6 separate regions of the Homo sapiens genome follow, and regions 1, 3, 4, 5 and 6 are each reported to be linked to region 2. Evidence: microRNA targets listed by miRTarBase, many of them from high-throughput screens and not tested one by one. Region 2 holds a microRNA gene; each other region holds the end of a gene's coding sequence.

Region 1 (5,076 bases), not on the chromosome of region 2:
TAATGTATTTATTCATGATGGCCTCATTGGCTTGGGAGATGTACTTAATTTTTAAAAATTTGCTTTAATTCCCTCATTTCTGCACTTCTCCAGTGCTTTCTATGAATTTTTTAAAGGCAACTGAGCCATGAGAGCACAAGCCCATTTTTCTAGCTGCAAAACGGACATGCCTGAAGTGTATGCTCAGCTCGCATCACCTTCCAGTGCCCTGCCTGGAGCTAGAACAACAAAACTTAATCCTCAGGAGGCTTCTGAGGGGCTCCAGGGAGTCACAGGATTACTTAAAGAAGGGAAAGGTCAGACCCTGATCCTGATGCCACTGTCAAAAATTCTAGCACTTTCATAGTTTAAAATATTTTACATTTATACAAAATAGTCATGTATAAAATGTTTTTTGTTCAGTTTACATTTTTAAAAAGGACAATGGTAATTTCAAATGCCTTCTGCTTACATGTCATGTAAATATTGTTAGGAGCCCATATTTTTTACAAAAACTATTATTTGTGGAGATTTTCATGACTGTATAGGTGTTTTCAGTTGGAGGATTTGCCAAACCTGTGTTTTGAGGCACACACGTGATCTCTGCTTGGGAAAGTGGCCAGTGCCACTGTGCAGTGCCCAGCATTTATACGTGACTCTGTTTGGTGTGTGCTGTGTTGGTCACCACTTAAAGTAGAGCCAGTGTGCACAATTTGAATATATAAAAATTTGAAAATATGTTTAGCCAGTCTACTCTTTAGTATATATTTTGAGTGAGTGTCAAGTGGAAAAAAAACAGTAAAAGGAAATTAATGAAGGAAAGGAAAGCACTTTCTGAGTTCTGTCAAACACAAGAGCTTCAGAGGAAACAGTGCTTCAAGACTGTAGTATAGTTTGTCCCTCCTCATTGATTTAACTAAGTGGATACTGAAAAAATATCACAGAGGCATTGATCTTGGTGCAGAAACCACCTCTCCCTGACTAGGGGAAAATAAGCTAGCAAGCAGTGTGTCAGGAAGACCCCTCTTGAAAGCAAAACAGAATTTAGACTACAGCTAGCTTTCACAAAGCTGTTAGCAGTTTATGGTGTTCAACTATAAATAAATATACCACCAAAAGCATAAGGTGTTACTCTTAAGAAAATGGCATGTTTATCAGATTAAAAAGCTCTAAAACCAAAAATTATCCAAAAAGTTAAACTCTGTGATTAGTTCTGGACACAGGGCCCAATTCTGTCGTCTCTTGAGAACTAGGCAACCCCTGGGCAGAACCAGCTTGATTAGCACCATGGCCATCCCTTTATGATGATAACAAACCTAAATATTCACCTTATAAGGAATTCTAAGCTCAACCACATTTACAAATGCTCAGCCCTCGGGGTTCCAAGACTGCTGGTCTTGGGATACCTTAGTGCGGCATTTATGACACAACACAGCTTTGAGGCATTTGTCCTTGGCTGGAAATGTCACACCTGGGAGCAGGCACACCCTGCAAGAGGCTATTCCGCTGCCACCCAAGCAATGAATTATGAGACAAAGCAAAAATTACACTGATGTTACAGAGACATCACTGATCCCTGCAATGAGTAATAATCTTCTTTTGACTTTGAACTGGTAGGCAAATGGAAGAAATCTTAACAGCTGACAACATCCTAGCTGGTAATTAAAAAAATAATTTTTAGTACTCCAGTTTGAAATTTGGTCTTTCACGGAAATTTTCCCTCATTTGGGAGGTCACCAAAATTGTGCTAGCTTTTTAAATTTTTATTATTTTTTTTAAAGCAGCACAGGACAAACTTCTACCATCTTGAAAAACTTCTAAGCTGTCCCTTATCCTAAATCTTGCACCTACAAGTCTTAGAAAGTGAATCTGAACTAAATGATTCAAAGATGAAACATAATGATATCATACTTAATATAAACATCTATTTCAACGTTTACGCCAGACTGAACACAATAAAAGTACTTATGAAAATTATAAGTCTGCACTCTTTAATTCTTAAGTTTACTTACACTTATGAAATAACTCTTGACATTTATTTTGTTGGCATGTGCTAATTAATAAACACATATTCCCAACACAGCAAAGGAAAAATCCCAGTCCAGAGCATTTTGTCTTTGTGAAGCCAATTAATTAAGACACCGCCTCTAGTGCCTTGAGATTCTGGGCTGCAGAAATGGTTGCTGGGGAACACATCTCCCTCGGCAGAGCCAGAAACCACTGACTGACTGACTAACAAACATTTCTTCAAATAAGATCTAGTGTGAAAAGGGCTTCCTCTCATTTCTTCTGGGCTCCATTCCATGAAGAATATAAGTTAGTTAGTTAGTTAGTGGAAATTACAAAGGAAAACACAACATCTCATACACAATTTATTTTATATAACTTACTTGGTGTTTTCTTTTATTGAATCATACAAATTCAAATGGGGATTCCTGAATAAATCTTTAGTTAATTTACCTTTGGCAGAAACAACAGATTCCAAAACAATTAGTAGCATCTCATTTATTTGTAGCTTAAAAAAAAATTCTGTAGCGTATTTTTCCAAAAACATAGTCTTAAACAAATGTGCTTTAAAAGCTAACTGGTAATGATCTGATTAATATCATAGCTTATTTAAGAGAGCTATTAAAGGACAGACTAGACATGTATTTTTAAAAAAACACAATTTTTGGTCATGTGAATGATTCATGTTCAGATTTCAAAAATAGGAAACATCCTAAAGTGCATCATTTTATTTATAATCTCACTCCTTGAAATTATAGCAATCTGCAATGTAAACAGTAGAGCAAAGAATTCCAAACTATATTTTTATGTACATTTAAACCTGTAGGATTATGTACCGTCTTTGTGTATGGATTAAAACCAGGGCACTTCCAACACATAGCTCAAGCTTCCATACGATTAAGAGCAAACTTAAAGGCATTCTTTTTCCCCATCCTTAACATTCAGCTGACAGAAGAGAGCTGCTACCTCACTTCAGCAATGGAAAATGTTGCTGTAAATCCCATTGGACCAGCCAGTTTCTCACGACCCTTTAAAACTGAAAACGGGTCAGTATAGTTTTACATTCTTTTTCTTTTCCTTAAAACTGTGCCCTTTCAGAAGGCAACTTTCAAAACATACGAGGGTGCCTCTGCTGTGTGTTCATACTGTAACACGTCGTCTAAGGCAGAGCTCCTGAAGCACCTTCTCTGGTCAGCCGTGGCAGGCGAGCAGATGCCTGGGCTCGGCCTCGCAAAGCACAAAGGTGGACACAGAACCCACTGTCCTTGGCGCAGGAGTTAAAAAAGTAACAGCAAATCATGAGGTGACATCAGGCACACTGAAGAGATGGAGGATTTGGTGTCTTACATTTCCTGGTCCCTCCAAAATGTCTAATATAGACAGTTTTGTGACAAAGTCTTTGAAAAAAATTATAATTGGCCACACAGCATGACTTCTTTTTTTTCTTTTTATACATGATCTCGAAAATAGTGTGATTTAGATTCTGCCTTGGGCTGAGCTCTGAGGGCTACATTTACCTGTCAGTTTGGGGATTTTAGTGCAGATTTTTTTTAAAAAAATTAAACTCTGGTAAGTACTCAGGAGGCTGAGAACACAGGCCCCTTCTCTCCCCGATCCTCTGTATGCAGGCTGACTTAAGCCCCTTTATGTTTGGCTAGTGCCACAACAAAACAGCCCCAAACAGATTGCCATGAGCATGCTAGCCTGGCTTGGTGTTTGACGATAAAATCAGACTGGTAAGTGCAGTCAGTGTTCAGGAAAGAATCTCCAGGCTCTTCTCCCATGACCTGGTTTTAAAATCAGCATTCATACAGCTGCTTACCATCTCTCTGTCCTCTGCAGATGACCCGGTCCTAGGCAGGGACCAAAATTCCTTGTCAGCTGAGGAAGTCCTGAAGAAACATCCTGAAGATGATGACTGCACTGCCATCGTGGGCAGATGCAGCTTCCATCTACCTGAGGGCTGAAGGGGAAAACCTTTCACACACGTGAGGAAGGCGCAGCTCTGTGGAAAGGTCACTAGAATGGCAGCGGCAGCAAATAGGGCTCCAATGCACGTTTGCAGTTAACTGGGTCCAAGGAGAGCATGGCCCTCCACAGCAAGTTTGCTCTATAGAATAAAGTCCTGAGCTTGTTTTTATCACAGTTAGACAGAGAATGGTCTCTTGTTTCTCAGTTATCCAGGGAAGAACAGTGTATATTCTCTGTAGATGAGTGTTGTCTAATGTAGTGATTAATCTCTGCTAGTGTTAGGAAAGCTCCACTACTGTGTGTGTGTGTGCGTGCATGCGCGTGCGCATGTGCACATACTGCAGTCTTGACTTTCCAATTACAAAATGCCTAAGTCAGGTCACATTGTCTTCTTCCAGCCAGTTTCTAAGGCAGGCAATGGAAACAGGAGCCGATGCCAAATGGTCTAGAGGCAGAAGGGCTGCATGCTTTGCAGGGCCAGCCCCAAGGCTGCCTTCCAGAGCTGCACTTTCTCTGGGGACAGTAAACTCTCACCGCAGCTGCCAGCCCCCTGTGCTTGGCCATGCCCCTCACATGGACTTGGAATCAGTGTCTCTCTTGCTGATGAGCACCTCCAGGAGCCTCAGTTTCGCCTTTATGTGCTTATATTCACTGTATTCTTCAGCCATAGGAGTGCGGTCTTCCTTCTGGACATTTCTAATGCAAATAAAGGAAAAAGGGGTCTGAGGATCATTTTCTGTCTTTGCTAGATACTATTCATCGGGCAAATTATCATTGTTTAGAAACTTTGCAGTTTATCAACTTGTAGAATCAGTGTTGCCGAGTGGCCCTTGGTCTCAAGACTGGGGCTGGATTTAGACAAGTAATGAAAATGTTTCACCCAGAAGGCAACATGCAACTGAGTTTTTATATAGTTAATCTGGCATCCTGTATGATAAGAAGGCTAAGAAATGCAGAAATTCTCTCTGCTAAGTATGAATTCACATTGAGCTCTCATACACCAAAATCTTTTATTCATACTTAATGTTTTCTCATTCTTATATATTTCATCTCGTGAAATTTTAAATTTTTAATTAGCAACTGGTCCACAACTTAGTTTTTTTTTTTTTTTTTTTTTCC
Region 2 (5,076 bases):
ATGTGTAAGCTGGAGATAAAGACTTGGGTATCTGCAGCATCTGAGCAGATGTAAACATCATTCACGTGCCTGAGATTCCTTCAAAGATTGTGAGACAAGAGAAGAGAAAAAAAGCCATAAAGTTAAGAATGGGTCTCAGAAGGATACTGGCATTGGGAGTTCAAGCAGATGAAGAGCTTCTTAAAAATAAATAAATAAATAGGACATCACTGTAATAAAGAGAGAAATCCAAATGAGAGTAGGATCACAAAAGTGAATGGGGACTGGAGTTTAGGAAGAAGTGGTCAGCTGTGTCAGGCATCAAGGGGAGTTCGAGTAGGACAACTGGCAGAAAAGTTTGATTTGTATTTGGCAATATGGAGCTCACTGGTGATTTGGGGAAAAGCAGTGTCATTAGAATGATGTTATGCACAAGTGGGAGAGAGAAATGGTAGAAGATGCCAAATTACATATAGTTGAGGTGAAATGGGAAGTAAACAAATATAGACAGTGCTGCAGGCTACTATGTACTATTTCTAAAATCTTAGCTTTTAAAAAGAAGAAAAGAAGTGGGGTAAGTAACTTGAGGATAAAGCAAGTATAGAGAAGTTTTTCTCAAATTTCTTTTGTTTTCTATTTGAGAAGAGAGAAAACTGAACCTTGTTACATGTGAAATGGAGCCAGATGGTGAGAGAGGAGGGGGATATCACAGGGGAAGAGATGTCCCAAGCAAGGCAGGAGGCTCACGTGAGACAACTCAGGGCAGAATCCTACGCATTCATAGGCTATAAACAAGGAAGTGGAGGGAATAATCACATGGACTCAAGCTTCTCAATGAAAAACAGAAGTCAGTTCATCTGTTGAGAGTGGAATCGTGGAAAGGAGCAGTTGAGGAAAGAGGTAAACATTTAGGCTAAACATGAGGGAGTGGAGTAGAAGAAATGCTGGGTCAGAGTTGAGGGACTGAGGCACTTGGAGGCCCCTGAGTATGTGTATTAATGTGTCCATATGATGATGTGATTTTATTTTTCAGCAACACTGATATTGAAAGGACAGTTGCCTTGGAGATAAGAGAATGAGAAACTAGAATGGTAAGAAGTGATAGACAGAGTGGGATATTAGATATCGAATGTGGTAAAATATTTTAAGGTTATGATGAGGTCAAGAGCCGGGTCCCAGCAATGGGTTTCTGTAATGGGAGTTAAAGGCAAATGGGATTTAAAAGATCAAGGAAAAGAAAGGATAATTTATTTGACCATTAAAAAAAAATGAACATTGAAGCCATCCAGGTACTCCAAACATAGACACTTGAGAAAGCATTTTATTTTGCTATATAATTATTATCATTACAAATGGTAAACTTAAAACTGCTGTGATCAAATTTAATGACAGATGTCCTATATAAAAATGCAGAGGCAAACCACTTAAGAAAAACCATGATATGCATAGGCTTTTACTTGCAAAGTCAGATGAGTAAACATGAGGCAATTAATGGGCCATGACTGTAAGTCTAACCACGCAGTTCATGCACATAGAAAGTGGGTAAAGTTTTAAAGTGGAAATTGAATTGGGAAAATCAATCTACTATATGACTGTCATGAGTGTTCTGATAGTTATATAGTTATGTATATATTATTTTCTTCGTATTTAGCATGTTACATAGCAAGAGGCAGAATTATATGAGCAAATCCTCACCCAGAGAAGCAGAAAGCTAAAATTATCTGGTGTTTCTATCCCACTTTGACCAGAACATCTAACAAAAGTTGTAAAGAACACATATTTGTAAGTGTGTTATTGTCAATGGCATGGGTGCTGAGGTCCTACTTTATGTCTTTTTTTCACTCACACTACAACAGTAGGAAGGTGAGCTAACCTAGATGATGATACTGTACGTTTGATGGACAAAATAGTTTTGCCTTTTCTAAAACATGCTCTGTTTATAGCATACAAAAGATAGAGAAGCATTATTCTTGTTTAAACCAGAGTCTTTTTCATTGAAATCTCATCACATGATATAAATTGAATAAATAAACCAGAAGATGCTGACGAATTGGAAAACTTAAAGAACAATAGTACTATTTTGAACACATCTTTCAAAGATGGAATATCTGTTGATTGTGACAGCAAAAAGCGGGGCCACAGTTGCATTCATTGTTCAGTGAGCTTGTCCACACAGTTCAACCCACCGACAGCAATGAATGTTGATTGTGACCTTTTAAAAAATAATCTCTGCACAGGGAAGAGAAAGTCCTGGTGTGTCCACCTTTGGTTTCCTGTCTTCAGCGAATTCTGAGCACCATGGAGTAGATGATGGTTAGCCATAGGGTACAATCAACGGTCGATGGTTTTGATTTTAATTCCAAACTCACCGACAGCGTTGAATGTTCACTGAAGCAACCTCAAAACTCAGAATTCTACTCACTTTACAGTATCTGTAAGTATCTGAAGGGGATGGGAGACAGAAACAACAGTACCTTTAGTCATATATTTTATGCATTTTTATGCCATTTCAAAAGACTACAAAAGAAGACAAATAAGAAGCATGATTCTTCCAACAAAGAGTTTGGCAAACCTCCACATCACATTGTATGAGAGAAAAGGATCGGTTTCATTAAGCAAAAACATGGCCGATATTGGGCTAGTTCCAGAGATGGAATTATCTCACTGTTAAAGACAGGGACAATTTGTTATTCAAAGTACTTTGTGGTATAAAATCCAAACAATATCTTATAATTTAAATATTGTTACGCTTATAGTAAGCAAGCATTATGTATATAGCTTATACAGAAATTAAACAGAATTACCTTAGATTTCCTCAAATTGGCATTGATGATATCATTTATATTTACATTATATATTTACTATATTTTATTCTAAAATAAGGTTTTAAAATTAGTATAACTTCCTAAGAACAATCTTATTTAGAAAATGCTGAACAAATTATAAGTGAAGAAACCAGCTCAATACATTTTTCTTAGTTTATGGCACAAAGAGTTCATGAATACAGTGAAAGGTAAATACAATCTATGTATGCTACAAAACCGTTCATTTCCTATTATTTTAAATAACATCTAACATCTAACATCTCTTTATGGGTAGATGGGTGAGGGATTCTTTTCATAGTCTTATTTTCTAAGACTGTTTTATCATTAATGCTTATTTTAAAATTATTATGAACTCTACTGAATTTATTTTTAGAGCCATTTTCAATAATTTTCTACCATCAATTAAAACAAAAGTCACCTTGGATGTATCTAAACCAGAATAGAAAGTCATTATTTCACACATTTAAGTTGCATCTAATATGGTTATAGAGTAATTATCTGTAGGAGGGACAACCCACAATAATTTGGAATGCTACTTTGAAGGTGATAATGGTCTATTCAAGTCAAGGCAATTACTCTCGAAATGTTAGTGAAATATGTATCCCAAATTTTTACACATTCTTACATTTCAGTCACTTAGAATTATTTTAAAGCCAATAATTGTTTAACCTTTTAGACAAACTATTTACATGAAAACTTCAACAGATTTTTTTTGAGAGAAACAGGGACTAGAGATCAACTGGAAGTAAATTTTAAAGTGACAAATAGGCACAGAATATGAAACAGTGATGTATCTGAATTTTGCATTGTTTAATTCTTTTGAAAGAAGCAAATTTCTCCCACAGAATAAAACCCTAGAAGAATGCTTTATCAGTAGGCATTTCTGTGTTGCTGCTGGAAAGAATATTATCATGAGACTGAGGATTCATTTGTTTGCATTATCAATTACGACTGAAAGCATATCACTCCTGTTCTGTTGCCTGCCTATTGTGGTATTAGTGTCAGGTCAATATACAACTGTTTTCAATCATGCCTATTCATCTCTTGCTACATCTGCTAACGTTTGTATAATAGGGATGTTGTGATAAAAGACTCCATGCTCTGTATTTTCCCTTAACACAAAATGCATTTGGCCTACCAGTAAGCAAAGCTCTAGGTCAGTTACAAATAATTAAAAGGCATAACTATGTTATCTTTTGTTTTCCAAAATATTCTCCTAGAAGTCTTTGGAAGAATACAATTAACTTAATCCTAAAGTTGTTACATTCTTAGAATAAAAATCTTAACTATAATTGATTTAACATTAAAATTCTTAAAAATCTTATAATGATTCACTTGAAACAATAGAAGTTACATTAAATGTCTTGTTATTTACACATAAAATAGCAATGATAAATAAAGTGATTAATTATTTTTTCTTTCCTTGGGCTAATCATAGTCATAGTTTGTTAAAGATAAAACCTCATATCTTAACAGTTTAAATCCTCCACAATGGAAAATAGGATCTCTGTGTTCTTGCTTCCAATTAATCTAATGTCAGAGAAGATAGTAAACTTTAGGCTCTATATTCTAAATTATTTCGAGCAATACAGAAAAATCGTTCTACTTGTTGGTGCAATTTAGTTTTCTGCTCACTTATATGGTCTTGCAATTACTGTCATGTACCTTCCAATCCTATATCTTTTCCATCTTTATTTTCACAACTTAATCCTTAGTTATAAATCATTTATCTTTAAAATATTAAGATGCAATGGTACTGAGATTTCACATTTTCTGGCAATTTTTTAGAACACATTGTTCATAATTCCAGAATTCCAAGTTGGTGGTAGCAATATGCATTCTTGCATAGTTTTCCTTGAATGAAAAAAAGTCACAAGCAATAGGTCATTAATGCATAAATACTCTCTTATCCCCCTCTTCCTAATTTTGGAGGGCTGTGTGGGTAGGATAAAACCAATCTAATTTGCATCAAAGCCAAATTTATTGTAGCTTTCATTTCTCATCCCTAGGCTTGTGGGAACATTAAGTATTTCAGTTTTGCTTAAGGTTAGTAGGTCATAAATAAACCAAAGCAATTTTTTTGCTTTGTGCAAGAGGGTCACGAAATACATGAAATACCACTTTTAAACAAAGCAAACCCTAACATGAATTGACAGAGGAACATAAAAAAGTAGTGCAATGTGCCTCAGTAAAAAGCCATAGGGATTTGGGATGCTGAAGTTGTCTGTTTTAGGAATAGATTATATATCTTGTTTGATGATCTGTATTTAAT
Region 3 (5,076 bases), not on the chromosome of region 2:
GTGGATCTCACAACTCTTCAGGCCTTACAACAAAACCTACAAAACTTGCAGTCACTGCAAGTAACTGCTGGGTTGATGGGAATGCCTACCGGCCTTCCTTCTGGAGGAGAAGCTAAAAACATGGCTGCTATGTTCCCCATGCTGCTGTCAGGAATGGCTGGATTACCAAATCTGTTGGGCATGGGAGGACTCCTGACAAAGCCTACGGAATCTGGGACAGAAGACAAAAAGGGAAGTGACTCTAAGGAGTCAGAAGGAAAAACAGAAAGGACAGAGAGCCAAAGTTCAGAGAATGGTGGAGAAAACTCTGTGTCAAGTTCTCCTTCCACATCCTCTACTGCTGCATTAAATACAGCTGCAGCTGCCAACCCATTAGCTCTTAACCCACTATTACTATCTAATATACTTTATCCAGGGATGCTTCTCACTCCAGGCCTTAATCTTCATATTCCAACTTTGTCCCAGTCCAATACTTTTGATGTACAAAACAAAAACAGTGACTTAGGCTCGTCTAAGTCTGTAGAAGTAAAAGAAGAAGATTCCAGAATTAAAGATCAGGAAGACAAAGGAGGAACTGAACCAAGTCCTCTCAATGAAAACAGCACAGATGAGGGTTCAGAGAAAGCTGATGCTTCATCTGGATCTGATAGTACATCGTCGTCATCTGAGGATTCAGATTCTAGTAATGAAGACTGATTCCCAGACTCTGCACTTAAAATATGAACTGATTTTGGATTTTTTCTTTAATAATTAATTGTAAATACCCCAGTGTTGAGTGCATCAATAACTTACTGACCGAACATTTCAGTTATTTGTTTAGAAGTGCAAACTGCTTTCAGAGACTTTTTGCATGTAATATTTCTTAAGATTCATAAGTTTCTGAACTCGTATGTACTATCAAATACATAAAGGTGTAAAATTACAACAAAAGGCATTATAATTTTGTTGGGGGTTAATTTTATGAAAATTATGCTCAATAAGAGTTGTATATTTAATATATTTGCAGTGAACACAGAATACTTTATGCATATTACTGATTTAATTTGAATATAGTTTTACAGCCTCCTTGACACCTATAATTTACAGATCAAAACTCAGCAATAATTTGGGCAGCTAATGAATGTCATGAAAGCTGTAGAATCTACATCACCATCCATTGCTTTAATTACATGAAAATGCTCTAGTGTTGTGATGCACTGCTGATGTTTCCAATTCAGGTACAAGTATGTTTTAAAGAAGAAATAAGTTTCCCAATCAGCCAATTTAACTGGCTACCTGTTACCTCAGCTGAGTTAGTTTAGGAAGTTTACATTCGTTTCTAATTCTATACTTGTTTTCAGGGGTTTTTTAAACACATCCTATATATCATGTCAATCTGGCAAGAAATATGACTTGCTTTTTGCTGAGCTTAATTCAGATATCAGTAAAATTAAGTCATAAAATAATCATGTGTCATGTGACTTTGGCACCCTATAGACATACTTAGTTTTAACTTTTCAAAGTTTGGCCTCCTATTAGAAATAATCATGTCTCAGATGAGTAATGTCTGTTTCCAGGGTTCAGAAAAGGCAAACTCATGAAATGCCACTGAAAAGAACTTTCAACACAGCATACTTCATGTAAAAGAAATTGTTTGTTTGCTTTCTTTGTGTAGATTTCTATTTGTGTTTTATGTCATGGAAATATTCCAGAATTAACAGATAATAGTGGTAAAGTAATATGCAGATAGTCTAAATTCATTTTGAGTTTCTAGGTGTAAGCAGACTAAATGTTGCCCAGAATCAGTGTTGGGTTATCAGTTTATATTAAATATACTGAGTTGCCCGTTTTGAAAATGCACTTTGAATAATCTCAAAAAGATGTACAAGTTATACCTGTAAACCACAAAAGTGAAGCCTGAGGCTTCTGTTCAATTTCATAGACTCCTTTACCATGTAAAATTTGTCTGATATTTGATTTGTGATACAATTTCTCCTGCTAAAGCTGCTATTATTCTGACAAGGTAGAGGTCCAGGTTCACCTTTATATATATTTAAAACAATTAGTACTGAATTGGACATAAAAATATTGACATTCTAAGGAGAGATATATGTTAGCATTTTTCTGGTACTCAAATAAGTTAGTAGTAAAGTCTGCAAGGGCATAAATTTAGGGGGAAAAAGTGTCCCAGTTCTCTCCTACAGAAAAAATACTTTCAGTATGTTTTGATAAAACTGTTGCTTTGTCATGAGTTAGTCAATTGTATCAGGTTTTCCAAGACCTTTACCAGTAAATTATGTTTCTGTATGTAAAATAACCCCTTATTAGAGAGACAGTGTTATATGTATTTACAAAATTATATAAGTTCCATTGGGATTGTATTGATTTTGTATTTTCCCAAAATAGTACTTTGAATTGATAGTCCTTTATGCAATGTCTTAGCAATAGTCTCTATAATGCCCATCCAGGAGAAGTGGGTAGTAATTCTTCATCATGAAAATGATATATTACATATTTAGTATCTTCCCTTTGCAGTATTGCACTTTTGTTTAACTAGAATACACCTATGAGATAGCCAAAGTTTCAAACACAGTTATCTTAGTTTACCGGTGGAGTATTTCAACACCAACCACATTTCCCTTCCTCCCTCTAATTCTACCCACATGATCTTTATTCCTTCCTTTCGCCAATTAAAAAAAAAAAAAAGGAAAAAAAATCTGTAGATCTTGTCACTAAAATCTAATTTATATCAAATTTATGAGAGAAAGTATTTTCCTAATTATGGTCAAATAAATTTGGTTAACATCCTAGTGATTCTCTTTCTATATAATAAGGCAATTACAGTTTTCAAAGCATTAAGTCTAACATAACTTTAAACATTCTCTTAGGTTTCAAGACACTTCTATTTAATATTCATTGGGGAAAAGTTGTCCAGCTATCAGCTAAGAAAACACATGCAAATATGGTTGTGTAAAGTTAAGGGTTATAAGGAAAAAAAAATCAGTAGAATTACATAATACTAAAGTTGCAGTTGAAAGAATATCCAAGTATGTGTTGGTAGTTACTAAAAGAATTATAGCTGTTATTGCCTTGTATTTATAGCCCTTGTTTCAGGTTTTATGATTCAAGTCTTAGTCCAATCTTTCTTTTGGACATTTGCAATATTTACCAGTTGTGTTTTGTGTAGTCTGAATTTGCTTTCTGTAGTTGAGCAAACGTCTTAAAAAGTCATTTGTAATTTATTAAATTACTTTCTATGATGTTCTATAGAGCAAATGGAAGTTTAATTATTTTTTATTAAACATATTCTTTGACTACCCATGATGTCAGCCTCTGTACATGAGAATACTTTTTAAAATTGAATTTTATATAGAATTTATCTTATTCCAGTTATGAGAGACACCATAGTTGTAAATCTTTAAAAGGAAAATATACCGTGGAAGAATTTTTAAAACAAAAATTGGCTATAATTTTATCCACAGTATCTTAAATGCTGTCAATTTTTCATTTTGATTTAATTTTATTAATATTGTTCATTGTGGATATTGGTGACTGCAAAAAAAGCAAAAGCTGCTTCTTGGGCATTCAAATTGTTAAACCCCAATTTTGCAGCCCAATCTCAACTTCATGCTGAACATTAAGTATTATTTTCTTAAGTTTTTGGACTTTTAAAAAACTCAGAAATACTCAGAGATATTCCTCACCTCTTTAAGAAGTCCATTTTGGAAATCAATAATTATTTTTTTCCCTTAGTCTTAAGAGTGTTTCCTAACTCATTGCCATGGGTAGTGTTCTTCGTAAACATTGAAGAAAATAGTTTTTCCTCTAATTACACAACTAAAACAGTGGAGTCTCATACTCATTTAACTTGAACACATTCAACTACACTTTCATGTTTAGAAAACCTTTTTTTCATTTTTGTACAACATAACATATAAACACAAACCAACTGCTTCATCTAGTACTCACCCAGAGGAACAGTAGTCTGTTCCAGTGTTGGAGGAAGAATTGCCTATGTTGGACATTTTTGAGAAGAGATATGAGGTATAAAATGATGTATTCTGTAATTTGTGAGCTCTGTGAGAGAAAAGAGTGATTTTTTTTTTTTTTATAAAGACAAGGTCTTGCTCTGCCTCCCCTAGGGTGGAGTGCAGTGGTGCGATCACAGCCCACTGCATCCTTGACCTGTTGGGCTCAAGCAATCCTCCCTCCTCAGCCTCCTGAGTAGCTGAGACTACAGCATGCATCACCACAACGAGCTAATTTTTGTATTTTTTGTAGAGATGGGGTTTTGCCGTGTTGCCCAGGCTGATCTCAAACTCCTGGGCTCAAGCAGTCTACCCATCTCGGCCTCCCAAAGTGCTGGGATTACAGGTGTGAGCCACCACACCCAGCCAGAAATGATTTTTGACTACACCTAATATTCACTTTATACAATAAACTTAGAACTTAATCTCTATATAAGCTATTTATTTTAAAATTCAGAAAAGCAAAAAAATATTTAAATCATTCATAAACTAAAACTACCCAGAGATAAACACTGTCAGTAATATATTCAATCTTTTGTATATCTATGTTATTTACATGTAGTGGGTTGAGTAGTGTCATTCAGAAACTGATGTCAACCTAAAACCTCAGAATGTGGCCTTATTTTGGAAATCGGGTCTTGGCAAATGTAATTAGTTGTAGTCATGCCGGATTAGGGTGGGCCCTAAATCCAATGACTAGTGTCCTTAGAAGAAGAGCAGAAGATACTCAGAAACACTGGGAAGGCTGTTTTGTGATAAAGGAGACCGGAGGGATGTTCCTACAACTAGGGAACACCAAGGATTGCCAGCAACCACCAGAAGCTAGGAGAGAAGTAACAAGCATTCTCCTTCATAGCTTCCGGAAAGAACCAACCTTGCCAACACCTTGATTTGGGGTTTCTAACCTGAACTGTAAGAGAATAAATTTCCATTGTTTTAAGTCACCTAGTTTGTGGTAATTTGTCATGGCAGCCCTAGGAAACTGATAGCTTTTCATATTAACTCAGTGTTTTATGGTACATAATTTCTACCTGCTGTAGGCTTTGAAAAAGAAGAAAAAAAACTTGGT
Region 4 (5,076 bases), not on the chromosome of region 2:
CTAACATTTGTGAGGGTGTACATTTGATTGAGGCCTTTTTTTTTTCTTAACGGCATCTAATTTTCATTCCACAGGATGCATATTGGCACATAAATGTAATTGTACTTCTCATGCAAGCCACAGGGTGTCATGCCTTCCTCTCCTGTTGCCAGAAGGATCTCTGAGATCCATTTTCCGTTTGCTTAGCTGCTAATGCCATTTCTCGTTCTCCCCAGTGTTCCTGACAGGCAGCGATCGGATTCCCATCTACGGCATGGCCAGTCTGCAGATTGTCATCCAGTCCACAGCCAGCGGGGAGGAGTACTTGCCGGTGGCCCACACTTGCTACAACCTTCTTGACCTCCCCAAGTACAGCAGCAAAGAGATTCTGAGTGCCCGGCTGACCCAGGCCCTTGACAACTATGAAGGGTTTAGTTTGGCCTGAGGCTTCTCAGCTTGTCCAGTATTTCCCTTCGTTCCTCAGTGTCCACATTGAGGCCTATACAGAAAATCATGGGGAGTGATTTCTATTTTTTTATTGTCTAAGTGGGTTGGGACTTTTAAATACTGAGCCTGGTTGATGTGTTTCTGGGATTGTATAGCAGTAAACAACCTTTTTGAAAAATTAGAGGTTGGGGATGGGGTGAAAAATTGGCCCTTGTATGGGAGGTGTTTTTGTTTTTGTTTTAAACCAAACTACCCAGTATTCCTTGCACTTGTGAATGTGTTGCACTCTGCTGGATGAAATGGCAGTGGATTTTTAAACTTTAATTTCCCAAATGTCTCTCTCAGCCCTGATGTTTTCTCACAGTGCTTCCTTGTCCTTCTCTTAACTTCTCATTCCTCTATAAGAATGATTTAGACTGACCTGTCCTTTTTTATCTGCGCATGCGAGAACATCACCTTCCTCTGTACACTTGGAAATGCCTCTGGCTTGTTGCAGCCCTCCTTTAACCCAAAGGAGGAAAGGACTGCTTCAGAAACTCCCAATTCCAAAAAGCTGAGTCTGGGTCCATTATTTTGGCAGAACTCCTAAGAATTTATGGGAGCCTATATAAACATATCTTGCTTTTAAAAAGTTCTTGAGGGAATAGCAACTTTCCCATGGCTGTGCCTATTTCCTAGACCTTTTAAAAGATGTGCAGAGCAGCTTAGCATTCGTTGCAGCTGAGCCTAATTTTTTCTTGCTCATCCTTGTCCCTTTGACAATAAGGTTAATTGATAGACCCACCACCTCTTGCACTCTCGCTTTTGGAGCAAGTTGCATTAACTATTTTGAGTCTCTATATTGTCCAAGAAAAGTAGAAATAATAAATTTACTTTCCCTTTTTCTATCACCTTATGTCCTCTACCATTTTCTCCTTCCTCCCTTCCCTTATTTTCTCCTTTTCGTACCCTGTGTCCTCCCTGATTTTCCTTTCGTTTCTTCTTTATTTTATCCCATTCTCTGTTACTTGACTCAGTGCTCCCTTCCTCTCCTCTCCTTCTAGTGGATGCATGCAGCCTTTTTTTCAATTTTTATTTAAATTGCAAAATTTTTACTCAGATTTTTTTTCCTCTTCCCTAATTGCTAAGATTTAAGGACGTTCTTTATTATGAAACTTTATCACATTCGAAATGTTTGTTTACAGTGGGATTTTAGGGGGGATTGTGTTTAAATCAAATATATGTATTTTAAAAATAATGACATGCTCAACCTTCCTCATCATGGAGTAAGAAAATTCTACATGATTAAAGAATCCATGTAAGTCTAATTTTAAATTCCTAGTAACTAGAGAAAAGACTTATTTATATAAAATGAAGTATTTATGAACTGTGATAAAGCATCAAATCTTGATGAAGGATTGTAGATTTTTGCTTTTTCTTTTTGTTTTTAAAACTTATTCCAATTGCTAAATTGGTAGTTTTTCAGTCTTTATAAATACAGGATTAAAAATATATATACAGTTATATGAAATGTTTATTTTCTATGTGTGTGCATATAGTTCAATATTATGCAATAAATTTGGTGTTTTAACTTAAAACTATTTCTTATTGTACTTGCAGAATGGATAGCTTGCTTTTAGTAGAAGCATTAGGTCGTATACTCAGATAATCTAATAGAAGGTCAGATTTGATTCCTGCATAAGAAAGTAGAGCCAAGTGCTGCAGAAATGGAGAAGAAAGCAGGGGCAAGGAGCAGATGGCATTAAGGAAGAATGAAGTTTTTGAAGGTTGGGATGGACGAAAAGGTGTTTCTCATGGAGAGGGATGCTTTAGCAAAGGCTCAAACATTGGGGCATATTTAGGCAAGAGCCAAGAACAGTTTGAAGGGAACATCAGAGGAAATAGGCAAATAATAGTAAATAATGGTAAGTAAGACTTGGGAGAAAGAAGGTAGATTTGGGGCTGAGGAACTAGCCTAACACTGGAACTTTAGTAGTAGCCAAGTAGGATTTGTTTCAATGTTCAGAACTTGAGGGTGATAAGACCTGAGCCGGGTCTTAAGAAGGAAAATGTGGATGGTCTAAATCTGGAGGTATTGAGGTGGGAAGGACTGAAGCAGAAAGACAGGAGCTGAGACAGCAGTGACAGTGGCAGCAGCAGAACTAGAGAAGAGTATCTGAGGAGAGGTAGGGGGAGTGAGTGGAGGTGGTAGGAGCCTGCAGGGAGAAGGAGGCACTAAAGGTGGATCAGAGACTGGTTCATTTAGTGATTGGTGATTGTTAGGCCATTTAAGCACACCAAAAGTTTGTGAGACACAGCAAAAAAAAAAAAAAAAGAAAGGATTTTAAGTAAATTGGTAAAGCAAGTAAAATGTATTGTTTTGCCAGATTAAAAAGGTGGTTTAAAGGTGGTAAAGAGAATAGGAGCTTTCCATTAATAAGCTCCATTCAACAAACATTTAATAATCTACATAAGTGCTACATTTGAGGAGTTAAAAACAAACCCCACTACATTTAATTTTGCACAGAAATTGCCAAATTATTTTAACTAACTTTGAGGCCTCAGAATTCTCATCCATGAAATGAGATTGGATCAGATGATTTCTAAGGTTACTTTGAGCTCTAAAATTTTATAATTCCATTACTGAGAGAGTGCCTGAACATAGAGATACCCAATACATATTTCTAAAGATTTGTTGCATGAATGATATCTTATGCTGCTTCTAAAACACTATGATTTTTCTAAGATAGTTTCCTTTTCCCCTTCATTACCAATGCTTTAGAAGACTTAAATCTTCTGCATAGGCATTTCTGGATTTGCCTACCCACCTACCAACCTTCCCTCCCCTGAAAACTTTCAGATGCTTCTTCATTGTTTTAGTCATTTACCACTTTAATGAAATTATCTGGCAACTTTATTGTGGTGGGTGGGGATCAATGACGGTGTAATGAGGCAATTAGCAAATTCTGATAGTTCCATCTACTCCATGTGAAAGTCTCTTGATGTTTTATATGGTACTCTTATTAATAATCCCAGAGAGCAGGGGTTGGCAAACTATGGCCCATGGGCTAAAATGGTTTTTACATTTTAAAAGGGTTGAAAACTTTAAAACTGGAAGGATACATGACAGAGACTGGATGGCCTACAATGCCTAACATATTATCTAGCCCTTTACAGAAAACAACTGACCAATCCTTATGAGACCAGACTTGCAAAAATTACAGTAACAGAGTGAAAAACCTTCTTGAAGTGTTAGGAGGAACTTGAGTCATAATTTGATGTTGAATCAGAGAGAACAACTGTTTGGGCTTATTTGCCTCAGAGGTAAGAAAATCAAGTTTTAACTAAGATTAACCCACAGAAGTAGATATTAATACTAAGGTTTCGACCTAATAATAACTAACCTGTATTAATTGTGTGCAGTGTACCAGACCCATATGAGATCCTGCACCAACATTTGCTATGCACTAACTAGTTTAATTGCCATTACCAGGGTCCTCCTGGCTCTGCTATTTACTAGCTGTTTGACCTTGGGCAGGTTTCTTAACCTATGTCTCATTTTCTTCCTCTTCAAAATGAGAACAGAAATAGTGCCTACCTCATGGAGTTGTTGTGAGGATTAAATGAATTAATGGAAAGCATATAGAATAGCGCTTAGCACATAATAAGCTCTCAGTACTTAGAATTACCATTATCCCAGTTTTTCACATGAAGGAATTAATTAGAGAAAATAGTTGCTCATTATCACAAAATAGTGGGACCTGGACTTGACCATTAATCTGTGTTATGCCCAGCTGCTAGAGATGGGCAACAAATTGGATTAAGGCTGCTCAGTAGCCAAATAAAAAGGAATGTTGTAATGTGGCAGGTAACTTCTTTGACCACATATCTGCAAAGACATCGCACCGAGTTCCACGTATCTGCAAAGACATCGCACTGAGTTCCACGTATCTGCAAAGACATCACACTGAATTTTGTTTTGCTGCCAGTGTGCAATTCAGTAGTGATCAGTGCAGTTCTCATGTCATTTGCAGTGGGTCTCAAGTGAAGCTGGAGGTCTCTGTTGGTAGTTAGTAGCCAGGAACCAGGTATGCTTAATGCCTTGCATTGCATAGAACAATTCCTCTTTATCCTGCCCAAGATGCCAGTGGGCACTGCTATGGTCTGAATGTTTGTTTCCCTCTTAAAATTTATGTGTTGAAACCTAGCCCCCAAGATGATGGTATTAGGAGGTGAGGTCTTTGGGAGGTGATTATATCATAAGGGCAGAACCCTCATGAGTGGTATTAGTTCCCTTATAAAAGAGAACCCAGAGAGGTGCCTTGCCTTCCCTACCATGTGAGGACACAGCAAGAAGGCACAATCTGTGAGAAAGTAGGCCCTCGCCAGACACCACCAGTGCTTTGATCTTGGATTTCCCAGCCTCCAGAACTGTGAAAAATGATTTTCTGTTGTAAATTACCTAGTGTTTGGCATTTTGTTATAGTGGCTTGACTGGACTAAGACAGGCCCCTTTGTAAAACACTGAGAGAGGGATGGACTTCATACCCTTTAGGGGATCCTTCTCTGTAGAATTCTTTTTTTCAGAAGATTTTTTTTTTTCTTTTATTAATAAGCTTTTTATTTTTGAATACTTTTTTATTGGTACATAGTTGTACGTATTATGGGGTA
Region 5 (5,076 bases), not on the chromosome of region 2:
GATGAGCTCTTTGCTAGTAAACGCTCCTTAGGGAATGTGAGCAAAGATACCCTCTTTTCCCCAGGAGCTCACAGTGTAGCTGAGAGAGGATCTATTCAGAAATACTCAGTGTCATGAAAAACAAGGAAAAAATGTATTGAATTCTAAATGACTGTTGCAACTCAGGGGGCAGGGGAAACCCCTGATGCTGAATATCAACTCCTGATTCACTCATAATTAATGTGCTATTAAGCATATGCAGGCATATCAACCACACCAATAGACATTCAGCCATAGCATTTGTTAGTTTTTAAAATGCAGACATAGGGAGGGTACAATGAAAAACAACCCATATCATCACCCAAACACCCATGGATGACATTTAAAATAATTAGAATAATTAGAACAACGTGACATTGTAATAACATTCAAATGAAACAGAAAAATGCAAAATTCTTCTCTTCTTTCTTTTTCTTCTCCCTTCTCATCCTCTCTCCCTTTCTCTCTCTTTCCCTCAGATGTGTTTCTGTGTATACATATGTGTATATGTCTGTGTATATGTCTATATACACACATACACACATGTGTTTATTTTTGTTTTTGGAAAGAGCTTTGTATTAACATACCATATAGATCTTGTTTTCTATAAAATAATATATTCAAAGTGTATTAAAATTTTTTTTCATTTTAACACATATATTGCTAATTCTTCTTAACGATGGTTTCATCATGTGCATGCATAATTTATTTATTCCCTCTGCAGTCATGTCATCATTTTGATCATGCTGAAGTTTGTGCTATTACCAGGATGCTGCCATCCTATCCACAGGTTTCACTGAGTGCTGGTGACACAATGGATGATGTGAATTCCTAACAGGGATTGGTGTAGGGGGTGGGCATATGACCCAGCCCTAGCCAATGAGACTGCAGGGGTGGTGAGCTAGGGGGTGCATAGGAGGAGCCTCCTCACATTCAGGAAGGAGGTGTGGAACAGAGGCTCTTCCCAGGGCTCTTTCTGCCTCTGGATGTTGGTGTTGATGATGTGATGTCTGGAGCTGTTGCAACCACCTTGCTACCAGCTTGAGGCTGAAGCTTCAAGAACAGGAAGGTAAGGCTGAGAGAATCCCAAGGAAGCAGAGCATATGCTGGGAGTTCTGTTCCTGAAGCCTGCCTCACCCAGGGGCTTCTTATCATGAGAGTAGAACATTCCCTTTGCATTCAAGACATTTTTAATTAGGGACTTAGTTTACATGTGGCTGAAAGCTTCTCAGCAGGTCCCAAGGCCTCTGCAGTTTCTTCTGCATGGTTTCTCCTTCCCTCACCTCTTCTTCAAGTCTCCTTCTACTTTTGTGGCTGGTGGATTTGTCTCCTCCCTCACGTCCTCCTTTGCCCATGCACTATGCAAGAATACTGGAGTCTGCCCATGTGTGTGTGAGTGGCACAGACAGGAGGGGCGGGCCTGACGTCCCTCCCCGATTATTCTGTTGGCTCCCAGCTGCAGGCAACACAGATGTAAAACTGTGACCAACAGGTGAGATGACTTGAAGAGATACTTTTTCCAGGACAAACTCCTGCACATTCAATGAGCTAATCAATATAGCACATCATGATACATTTGCACAATTTTGAAGCTCACTACACAACAGTGACAGTTTAAAAATGCTGTGTTAGTGAGCATTGTTAATACAAAGAGTCTTTAAGATCATCAATCTTATGTCTAGAAAATTTAGAAAGCACTAAAATCTTAGAGTTCACAAATGAGAGGAAACTGCAAGAGGCTTTTACGAATTTGTCAACAATCAGGAAAGGTTGCAGGATATTACCAATATGAGTTTTGAAGCAGAAAAAGGATGTTATGTACCATTAAGTTCACAGATCATCAAACAGTTAGTGGAAAGACTGGTTTATCTTTCTGCTATATTTATAAAAGTTCTGGTACAAATTCAATGTCTTATGATGAGGCAAATAGTGATTCATTAGCTGAATATGGAAACATAGGCAGAAAATATTACAGAGTTGTGTCAACTAGTTAATTAAACAAAAACATTATATGAGACAGTAAAGATCATGTGGATTAAGGGAGGGCAAATCTGCCCTTTCATCTGCAGGGTGGATAGATGGACTGATGTGGTCAAAGCCAGTGGCATCATGAACGGGAAACAATGTTTCTCTCAAGCTGCAGCTTTGAAATGTCAAGCAGCTTCTTCCTTGGCTGACAACTGCTTTCTGACTCAATGGAAGACCTTGTTCTCTAGCGTCAGGGCTGTCAGAAACTTTGCTTATGAGTAAGAAGAACATCCCACTGCCTGGAGGATCTAGGTCCACCTTTACACAGAAGCACAGAGCTACAGAGAAGGGGTTTCTGGACAGAACGTTCCACATTTGCCTGAACCTTATGGGTTCTGAGGAGATAGGAGGAGCTGAGGAGATAGGAGGAGCTGAGTACAATTTGCAGCCCAGACCTGACCCTGGCTCCTTTACACAGAAGCCTGCCATGCTCTGAGTGCATCAATACACCTTCAAAATCCCTTCCTCCAATCCTGTGATAACCTTTTTTCCTTTGTTTGTTGAATCATGTGAGGATCCTTGTGTGACTTTATTCCCTTATTGCAACAACCCAATACTGAGTGTGTTGGCTACAGTACTGACTTGGTGGCTGATTATTTTCTGGATTTTGTGGGTGTCTGTTATTTTCTGGAGTTTGTGGCTGTTTGCAGTATATCTCAGTGTTTTAAAAAGTGAGTATTTTGCCATAATTTATTTTCTTTTCCCAAATAAACATTAACTTTTGTGCTTTCTTTTGTATTGCTAATATTGCTCTATTTTTCATACATAAAGCCCCCATATTGTATGAGCCTCAGGCCCTGCAGCACCTGGTCTGCCTGTGATCATGAAGAGAGTCCACCTGCCCAAGGAAAGACTGTGCCGTCTCATGCTTCCCAGGCCTCCGATGCACTCATCCCTCCTTCCAGAGTGATTTCTCTATGCTGGGTGAGGGGTTTCCAACCTCTGCAGTTTCCATCTTTTACCTCTGATCTGGTGCATGATTTTTTCTAAAGGAACTCTTAGAAGACACTTAACATGACCTGATCAGGAACCTTCTTTAGCTTCTTCCAAGGACACAGCTCAGTGCCCAGAAGATGGACCTGTTCACTCTCAGCTTCCCCGCATCCTGCTCTGTTCCAAGGGAGCAGACACACAGGGAAAAGTCGGGGGAGTCCTGTGCAGAACCCCGACGTCACACCATCTTCCCCAAGGAAGATAGAATTGTGTCAGAAAGGGACTGTTTTTCAAAAAATCAGCTGTTCATTGTGTGCCTGGATGGTGGTCCCTTTGGTCAATAAACCCTTCATCCACATGGAAAATTATGAGCACTTCCGTGCAAGAAAGACTTTGCCCCCAACCACAACATCTGTGCACCTGCTGCTCTGCCCTCAGCCGCTCTCTCCCAGTAGAAGCCTGAATCACTAAGTGCACCCTCCACTGAGAGGATGAGGCCCAGATTTGACTCCCCCGCTCATGGCTGCCTGGGCGCTGCTACACTTCCCACATCACAGACTCAGTTAAATCCCATGGGGGTGGAGAGGAAATGGAAGCAGATGCTGCTCACTCTCCCTGCCAGACCATTCTCCTCCTGGCTTCCTAGGTGCAGCACGGTGGGTGCTGGCCTCAGGGCTGTTTCAGCAGCTTCCTCTTTGTCATTTCCCTCTCAGTGTTCATGGCAGCCACCCTTGGTCAATGCAGCTCTGAGTGAGGAAGACATTTCAGAGCCTTGGGCCAGAGGCACCTGTCCTGAGGGCTGCACCCCCTTCTCTTTGAACTAAAATAGCAAAGAGAAGGACCGTGTGGGCTTGGGGCCATGTGACTTAGGAGTGTAGCCTCCTGCTTGAGGCACAAATATCTACTATTCTATGAATCATGATGACACTAAGTTTTTTTTATTAATTGGAACATCATCCTTGGAAAAAAACAGTCCACTTCATGCCAGTCCCATTTGTGTTTTAACTTCTCTAACCCTAATATAAAGTTTGACATGAGGACTTTTTAAAACTTCAAGTCCAGAGAATGGGCCGGTGGGTGTGAATTGACAAAACCTCCCACCCTGGGGCACACCTTCCCAGGATAGATGACAGCAGGCACTGTTTTCTCTGTGAGATCTTGCCCATCTTTGGTCTGGCTGGCATTTCTCCCAATCAGTTACACATACACATACACACTTTTGGACTTGTTTCCATGTAAGGGCCTAAAGTCTCTTGTGGAAAGAAGCAGACATCGATCGCTATTTATTTAGTGTCTAGGGGATTTGATGAGAGCAGCTCAGTCCCTGGAGTCTGCTCAACTCTGCAAGCACAGATGGAATCCACGGCCTGGCGAGCTCCACTGAGGCCTGGCCCCTGCCTGTGGACACAGCCAGCCCCCTCCTCCTGGTCTGACCAGGAGCTCAGACCAAACCAGCAGCCCAACTTCTGGGGCCAGCAGAACAAGGAGGCTTCATAAAGGAACTGCAGAAACCCTGCCTGTGTGTACATCCCCAAACAGCCAAGAACTCAGAGGGAGGCAATGCTACTGTTTAATTGCAGGAGGTGGGAGAGTGTGCACTGCACACTGGGGCTATGAGAAGCAAGAAGGAAGGAGCAAGGGCAGAGCCTCCTGCTGAGCAACAAAGGCCTCCTGCCACCTTCTGTGTCTGTCTCCTGGTGCAGGCGCATGAGGAGACCTCCCCCAGGGTGGGGGCCACCAGTCCAGGGGTGGGAGCACTACAGGGGGTGGGAGTAGGAGGTGGTCAGTGTGACAGGCCTTGCACAGACCCCTAGACTTTCCGGCACTTGTAGTTCAGAATGGAAATTTTATCCTCCCAGGGAACTTCATTGATCTGGAAAGAGCAGAACTCTTCCTGTGAAAAGAAAGAGATGGAGAAAATGACTGTGGGTTACAGTTAAAGCCAAAGATGCCCAGGAATGGGACATCAGAATGGGGGTGAAAATGGTTGGAGATGAGACACTGCCCCCTGACCCCAACCTACCCCTGCCGAGTTCCAGGGCACTGAGCCCAACTGGGCAGTGACTGTTCCATTGCCCCTCCCAAGGCTCCAAGTCA
Region 6 (5,076 bases), not on the chromosome of region 2:
CTGAACAACATGGCAAAACCTCGTCTCTAATATTAAAAATACAAGGCCAGTCACAGTGGCTCACGTCTGTAATCCCAGCACTTTGGGAGGCCAAGGCAGGCGGATCACGAGGTCAGGGTATCGAGACCATCCTGACTGACATGGTGAAACCCCATCTGTACTAAAAATACAAAAAAAAAATTAGCTGGGCGTGGTGGCACGCACGTGTAGTCTCAGCTATTCAGGAGGCTGAGGCAGGAGAATCACTTGAACTCGGGAGGCGGAGGTTGCAGTGAGCCAAGATCATGCCACTGCACTCCAGCCTGGGTGAGAGCGAGACTCCATCTCAAATAAATAAATAAATAAATAATAAATAAAAATACAAAAAATTACTTGGGCATGGTGGCAGGCACCTGTAATCCCAGCTACTCGGGAGGCTGAGGCAGGAGAACTGCTTGAACCCGGGAGGTGGAGGTTGCACTGAGCCAAGACCACACAATTGCACTCCAGGTTGGGCGACAAAGCAAGACTCTGTCTAAAAAAAAAAAAAGAAAAAAGCAATTTACTGAGCACTCGCTCTGCTAGGTACTTGGGTTTGAACCCAGGGATTCAACAGGGAATGTGCCTATTGAGCTTAGTAAATTTGGGAAATCAAACTGAATTAAATGTCATCTAGTTTCTCAGTGCCTCTTTGAGATAGACATTCTAGGGATGTACAAAAAAATGACATCTGAACTTAGGATGTAACAAATAACTATTTAATGTGAACATGCTACATACTTGAATTTATCCAGTACATTTACCTACATATCAAATTATCAAACGTCCAAAGGATTACAATCTATTTTTCTTCCCTAATGCCTTTCTTCCACATGAGCACTAAATGTCATGGTAAAGTGCTAATGATTCTCAAAATGCAAAACTTGGAAAAAAATTGTATAACTTTTTTTTTAGGAAAAGCACATAAGATAAACTTGAACAAAGTAATGAAATTATCTCCAGATTTTCTTTTTCAAGGCTGAGTGTGTGATTCACACCTGTAATCCCAGCACTTTGGGAGGCTGAGGTGGGAGGATTGCCTGAGGCCAGGAGTTCAAGACCAGCCTGGGCAACACAGGGCGAACCCCCGCCCCACCGACCTCTATGAATAATAAAAAATTAGCTGAGCATGGTGGTACATGCTTATAGTCCCAGCTACTCAGCAGCCAAGGTGAGAGGCTAACTTGAGCCCAGGAGGTAGAGGCTGCAGTAAGCCATGATTGTGCCACTGCACTCCAGCCTGGGGGACACGACAACACCCTGTCTCAAAAATAATAAACAAAATGTTAAAATTAAATTTAAAAACAGGACTGGGCAGGGTGACTTATGCCTGTAATCCCACCACCTTGGGAGGCTGAGGCAGGAGGATCACTTAAGCTCAGGAATTTAAGACCAGCCTAGGCAACATAGTGAGACTACATCTCTACTAAAAAATTTTTTTAAAAATTAGCTGGGTGTGATGCTGGACGACCGTTGTAGCCCCAGTTACTTAGGAGGCTGAGGTATTCGGGAGAATCACTTGAGCTCTGAGGTTGAGGCTGCAGTGAGCCATGACTGTGCCATTGCACTCTAGCCTAGGTGACAGAGGGAGACCCTGTCTCAATAAAAACGTAAGAAAAAAGAAAAGAAATCAGGACTTGGAATCCTAATTTGAAAATGAAACAGAACACAGAGTAAGCTACCTAAAACAGTAATAGGCTTACAGAAGGCTTTTTAGGAATTCTTGTGTGTTCTACTCATACTTGTATAAAATTTTAAGCATCTCCAAATGTTATACAGCTCTAAATAAAGTGGAGAAAAGGGGTAGCCAGGTAATTCAAATAATAGAATTTCTTTCTTCCCAAATTACTTACTGAAGCCATGAAGCAAAACTTACCTACACAAAAATCCAGAGATCTGTGATTAGTAAACATTTAAACCGTTGACAAATTCTTTCCTTGATATTCAACGGCATCCTTCCAAGAATGTGGTTAACCAATGAACTCAATCAAGTTCAGTTGTGTCTATGACTGTGATGTCTAAATAACTGAAAAGTAAAATATCCAAAATAGCTGCTTTTCTTATGCATTACACATACCCCAACATTATGCACACAGGTGCACCAACTTAGTCCATTTGTGCTACTGCAACAAAATACCTATAATTTATAAAGAACAGAAATTTGTATTTCTCACAGTCTGTTGGCTGGGAAGCCCAAGATCAAGGTGCTCGCAGGTTCCACATCAGGCGGAGGCCCCTTCCTCACAGATGACACCATCTAGGTGTCCTCCTGTGGCAGAACAACAGAACAGCAAAATGGGCCTAAGCTAGTTGCTTCCAGACCTTTTTATAAAAGGCAACTAATTCATTCATGAAGACAGAGCGCTCATGCCTTAAATCACTTCCCCAAAAGCCCAACCTCTTAATACCACCATAATGGGGACGAACACATGAATTTGGGGTGGTGGGACACATATATTCAAACTATAGCATGCACTTTTCAACATCTTAAAACAGATTCCCGTGGTCTCAAGAGGCCAGACTAGACAAAAATTAGGGCATCTCTTTGGTTACTCTCTAAAACGTTAAACTCTATACTGAGAGTGAGTGGAATACAAAAGTATGACATTTAATTAGACATTCTGCTGGCTGACACAAAACTTGCACTTCCTTTTTCATTAGCCAATAGGTACAGCTATAACTGTAGACAGAAATTATAATTAGAAATAATGAGAGCAATTTCTTGGATTACTCCACTTTTAAATTATATTTTATTCAGACTTATCCTTTGAAATTACTCATGATTAGCCTATCCTCTTCATGTGATAATTTAGGAAACCTCTCTATTGCTGTGGCATCTTTATGGAAAAAAAAAATTGTGTACATGCATACATGCAAGAAAGTTTCCTACAAACATCACAATTTAAAAACCACTCTATCCAAAAAGGCATTGTAAAAGTATAATTTTGCATTTTATTCATTCATTCCATCAGCTGGGAATTGCTCTATTGTACAAATACAGTTTTGTACAAAAAAATCACAAAATGTTACAAAATAAAAAAAGTACAAACTGCATTACTTAATAAATATGACTAAAAGTAGTTAAAGTGGCAATGAGATTGATTTTAAGTTGGAAACATTGTTTGACCCAGCAAACCATACAAGCTCTGTTTACAGACATTTCTACATCAATACAGGGCAATCCTATTTTGCCTTTTGAAAGAATGTAAAGAAATATTAAGACAGTGTTCTCCTGCTATAACTGCCAAGGTTGGCTCCAGACATTTATGCCATTAGTTTATAAATCTCTTAGCTGGATTCAAGAAGTTATATAAAGCAGGAGGCTTATCTTGTCACAGAGTTTTATACCATGTTAACATTCTCTTACAACAACGTGACAAATGTAAATAAAAACAACTGAGAGCACCAGACAATCTACTCTACACATCAACCAGGGTACAGAATAATCATTCTGCCATCAGCAAATATCAGACTTTCATTCAAGTAAGACCTGCTACTATCCCTTAAAAGAGGAAAAACAAAACAAAAACCAAAAAAAAAACACAAAAAAACACCTTCCCACAACCTTCCATTAAGTAATTTTCTTTAAAAGATTCGCCATTTCTAGAAAAATAATGACTTCCAAAACAACAGCTCTGTTTCATCAAAATGGAATGGGCCAAACATCTGGTAACAAGAATGCATCAATATCCATTTGAAATAATTATCTAAGAATTGTGAAATTCAAATTTCAACAACATAAAATAACTACCAAATCACAAACTCTGTTCAAAATAATACATTTCATATAAAGCACTTCTCTGGATTTACGCCTGAAAGCTGTTTGTCAAAATGGAACACGTCATAGATGAAGGTACACCAGTTTTTAAAAATGTTGTGCAAAAATACATTTTTATAGAAAATAGACTACCAGGAATGAACAAATTTACACTGTGAGAAATCAGCTTGCAAATTAAGTAATGCTCACTTTATACAGCAAATTATAAATAGCAGTAAAATCACCCAAAGCTATCATGAAACATCATTTAGGTGCCCAGCAACCTCCAGCTCTGAGAAAACATTCAAAAAGATGATTAAGGCATTACACCTACAGTAAAATCTACTAGCAAGTTTGAAAGTGCTATTACCCTGATTAAAGTTCATGTGATTCTCCAAACACAAGTTATATATGCAATTATTCCCAGGGTGTAAGGTTTTGAGACATTTCAAGAGCATGCATTTTGTTCAATATACATTTTAGACAAGGATATGGCCATAGATTTGGCAAGTTCTTCGTCGCGTTTCCTTTGCACTTGAGTTTGTTTGCACCAGTTGTCGTACTCTGGGTTAGGATAGGAGTGATCAAATACAGCATCATAGTGTCCGTTACTGAGCCAACTGAGCCAAATACTAGGCCTCAGGGAATCCTCTGGGCCCAAATAATGAATCATGGTAGACACCGTGGGACTCTCCAGCCTCCCTCCAGTAGTTAAATGGATATTCACATTCAGCATCTGCCCCATGGCCAGCAACTCCGGGTACCCGGCCCATGCCCCGTCTTGGGCAGCAGCGATGATAAACTCCCCCACGTCGCCCTCAATCAGGGGGCTGAAGTGGTCGAGATGGTCGGCGATGTAGTGCACCGTCTGCTCCCTCAACTCCCGGTGCAGGCTCTGGTCCCCATACACCGTCTTGCTGACAGCTCGGTAGAGGCAGTTGCCGTCTGGAATGATGTGGAATCGGTACTTATTCCTCTGCCGCAGATACTTGTCCTGCTTCTCCACCTCGGCCAGGTATAGGGCCAGCTTCTCGTCTCTGGGATCCGACCTGGAGACGATCACCGGCTCCGCCGCACTACTCGGGGCGGCCTCGATGCTCCCGGCGGGGGGTGCCTCGGCCTCTGGGTCGGGCCTCCGCGCCGCGTCCCCACCGGGCGCGTCGCAGCGATCGCCGCCCCTCTCCCAGCCCCTGGGGCCCCTCTCCGCCAAGTGCTCTTCGCCCCACGGACCGGGGCCGGGATCGGGGCTCCCCGGGGTCGCCGCGGGGCCTCGGTGCTTGGCGGCGGCCAGGGCCTGGCGG

The links. The annotated mature microRNA hsa-miR-181a-5p reads AACAUUCAACGCUGUCGGUGAGU and lies in region 2 at 2,343-2,365, opposite strand. An mRNA with a match to its seed (bases 2 to 7 or 8) in the 3' UTR can be bound and repressed. Matches are read on the target gene's strand: a 7mer-m8 pairs with bases 2 to 8, a 7mer-A1 pairs with bases 2 to 7 and ends in A, and an 8mer does both.
Region 1: miRTarBase lists FAM13A as a target of hsa-miR-181a-5p. Seed matches in the 3' UTR shown: 7mer-A1 at 3,046-3,052 and 7mer-m8 at 2,924-2,930.
Region 3: the mRNA of CHD9 is a reported target of hsa-miR-181a-5p. Seed matches in the 3' UTR shown: 7mer-m8 at 1,118-1,124.
Region 4: the mRNA of HERC3 is a reported target of hsa-miR-181a-5p. Seed matches in the 3' UTR shown: 7mer-m8 at 699-705.
Region 5: miRTarBase lists CST5 as a target of hsa-miR-181a-5p. The part of its 3' UTR that is shown has no 7-base or 8-base seed match.
Region 6: the mRNA of OTUD1 is a reported target of hsa-miR-181a-5p. Seed matches in the 3' UTR shown: 7mer-m8 at 4,076-4,082.

The regions. Positions count from the first base shown.
Region 1 is chr4:88,724,007-88,729,082 of GRCh38, forward strand. It overlaps FAM13A (family with sequence similarity 13 member A), which reads right to left. Exons shown (of 24, transcript NM_014883.4): 24 at 1,954-4,653. The coding sequence ends at 4,527. FAM13A-AS1 (FAM13A antisense RNA 1) reads left to right here. Exons shown (of 5, transcript NR_002806.2): 5 at 3,829-5,076. Among named protein-coding and RNA genes, the nearest start is that of FAM13A-AS1, 17 kb to the left of the region's middle.
Region 2 is chr1:198,856,766-198,861,841 of GRCh38, forward strand. It overlaps MIR181A1 (microRNA 181a-1), which reads right to left and starts at 2,388; the gene lies at 2,279-2,388. All of the region lies in intron 2 of MIR181A1HG (MIR181A1 host gene), which reads right to left. It overlaps MIR181B1 (microRNA 181b-1), which reads right to left and starts at 2,217; the gene lies at 2,108-2,217.
Region 3 is chr16:53,324,200-53,329,275 of GRCh38, forward strand. CHD9 (chromodomain helicase DNA binding protein 9) reads left to right here. Exons shown (of 39, transcript NM_001308319.2): 39 at 1-3,298. The coding sequence ends at 696. Among named protein-coding and RNA genes, the nearest start is that of RBL2, 110 kb to the right of the region's middle.
Region 4 is chr4:88,706,537-88,711,612 of GRCh38, forward strand. HERC3 (HECT and RLD domain containing E3 ubiquitin protein ligase 3) reads left to right here. Exons shown (of 26, transcript NM_014606.3): 26 at 216-2,003. The coding sequence ends at 424. It overlaps FAM13A-AS1 (FAM13A antisense RNA 1), which reads left to right and starts at 3,253. Exons shown (of 5, transcript NR_002806.2): 1 at 3,253-3,729.
Region 5 is chr20:23,871,399-23,876,474 of GRCh38, forward strand. It overlaps CST5 (cystatin D), which reads right to left. Exons shown (of 3, transcript NM_001900.5): 3 at 4,536-4,873. The coding sequence ends at 4,790. Among named protein-coding and RNA genes, the nearest start is that of CST5, 5.8 kb to the right of the region's middle.
Region 6 is chr10:23,440,051-23,445,126 of GRCh38, reverse strand. OTUD1 (OTU deubiquitinase 1) reads right to left here. Exons shown (of 1, transcript NM_001145373.3): 1 at 2,750-5,076. The coding sequence ends at 4,224. Among named protein-coding and RNA genes, the nearest start is that of OTUD1, 3.5 kb to the right of the region's middle. RefSeq lists a silencer at 4,834-5,076.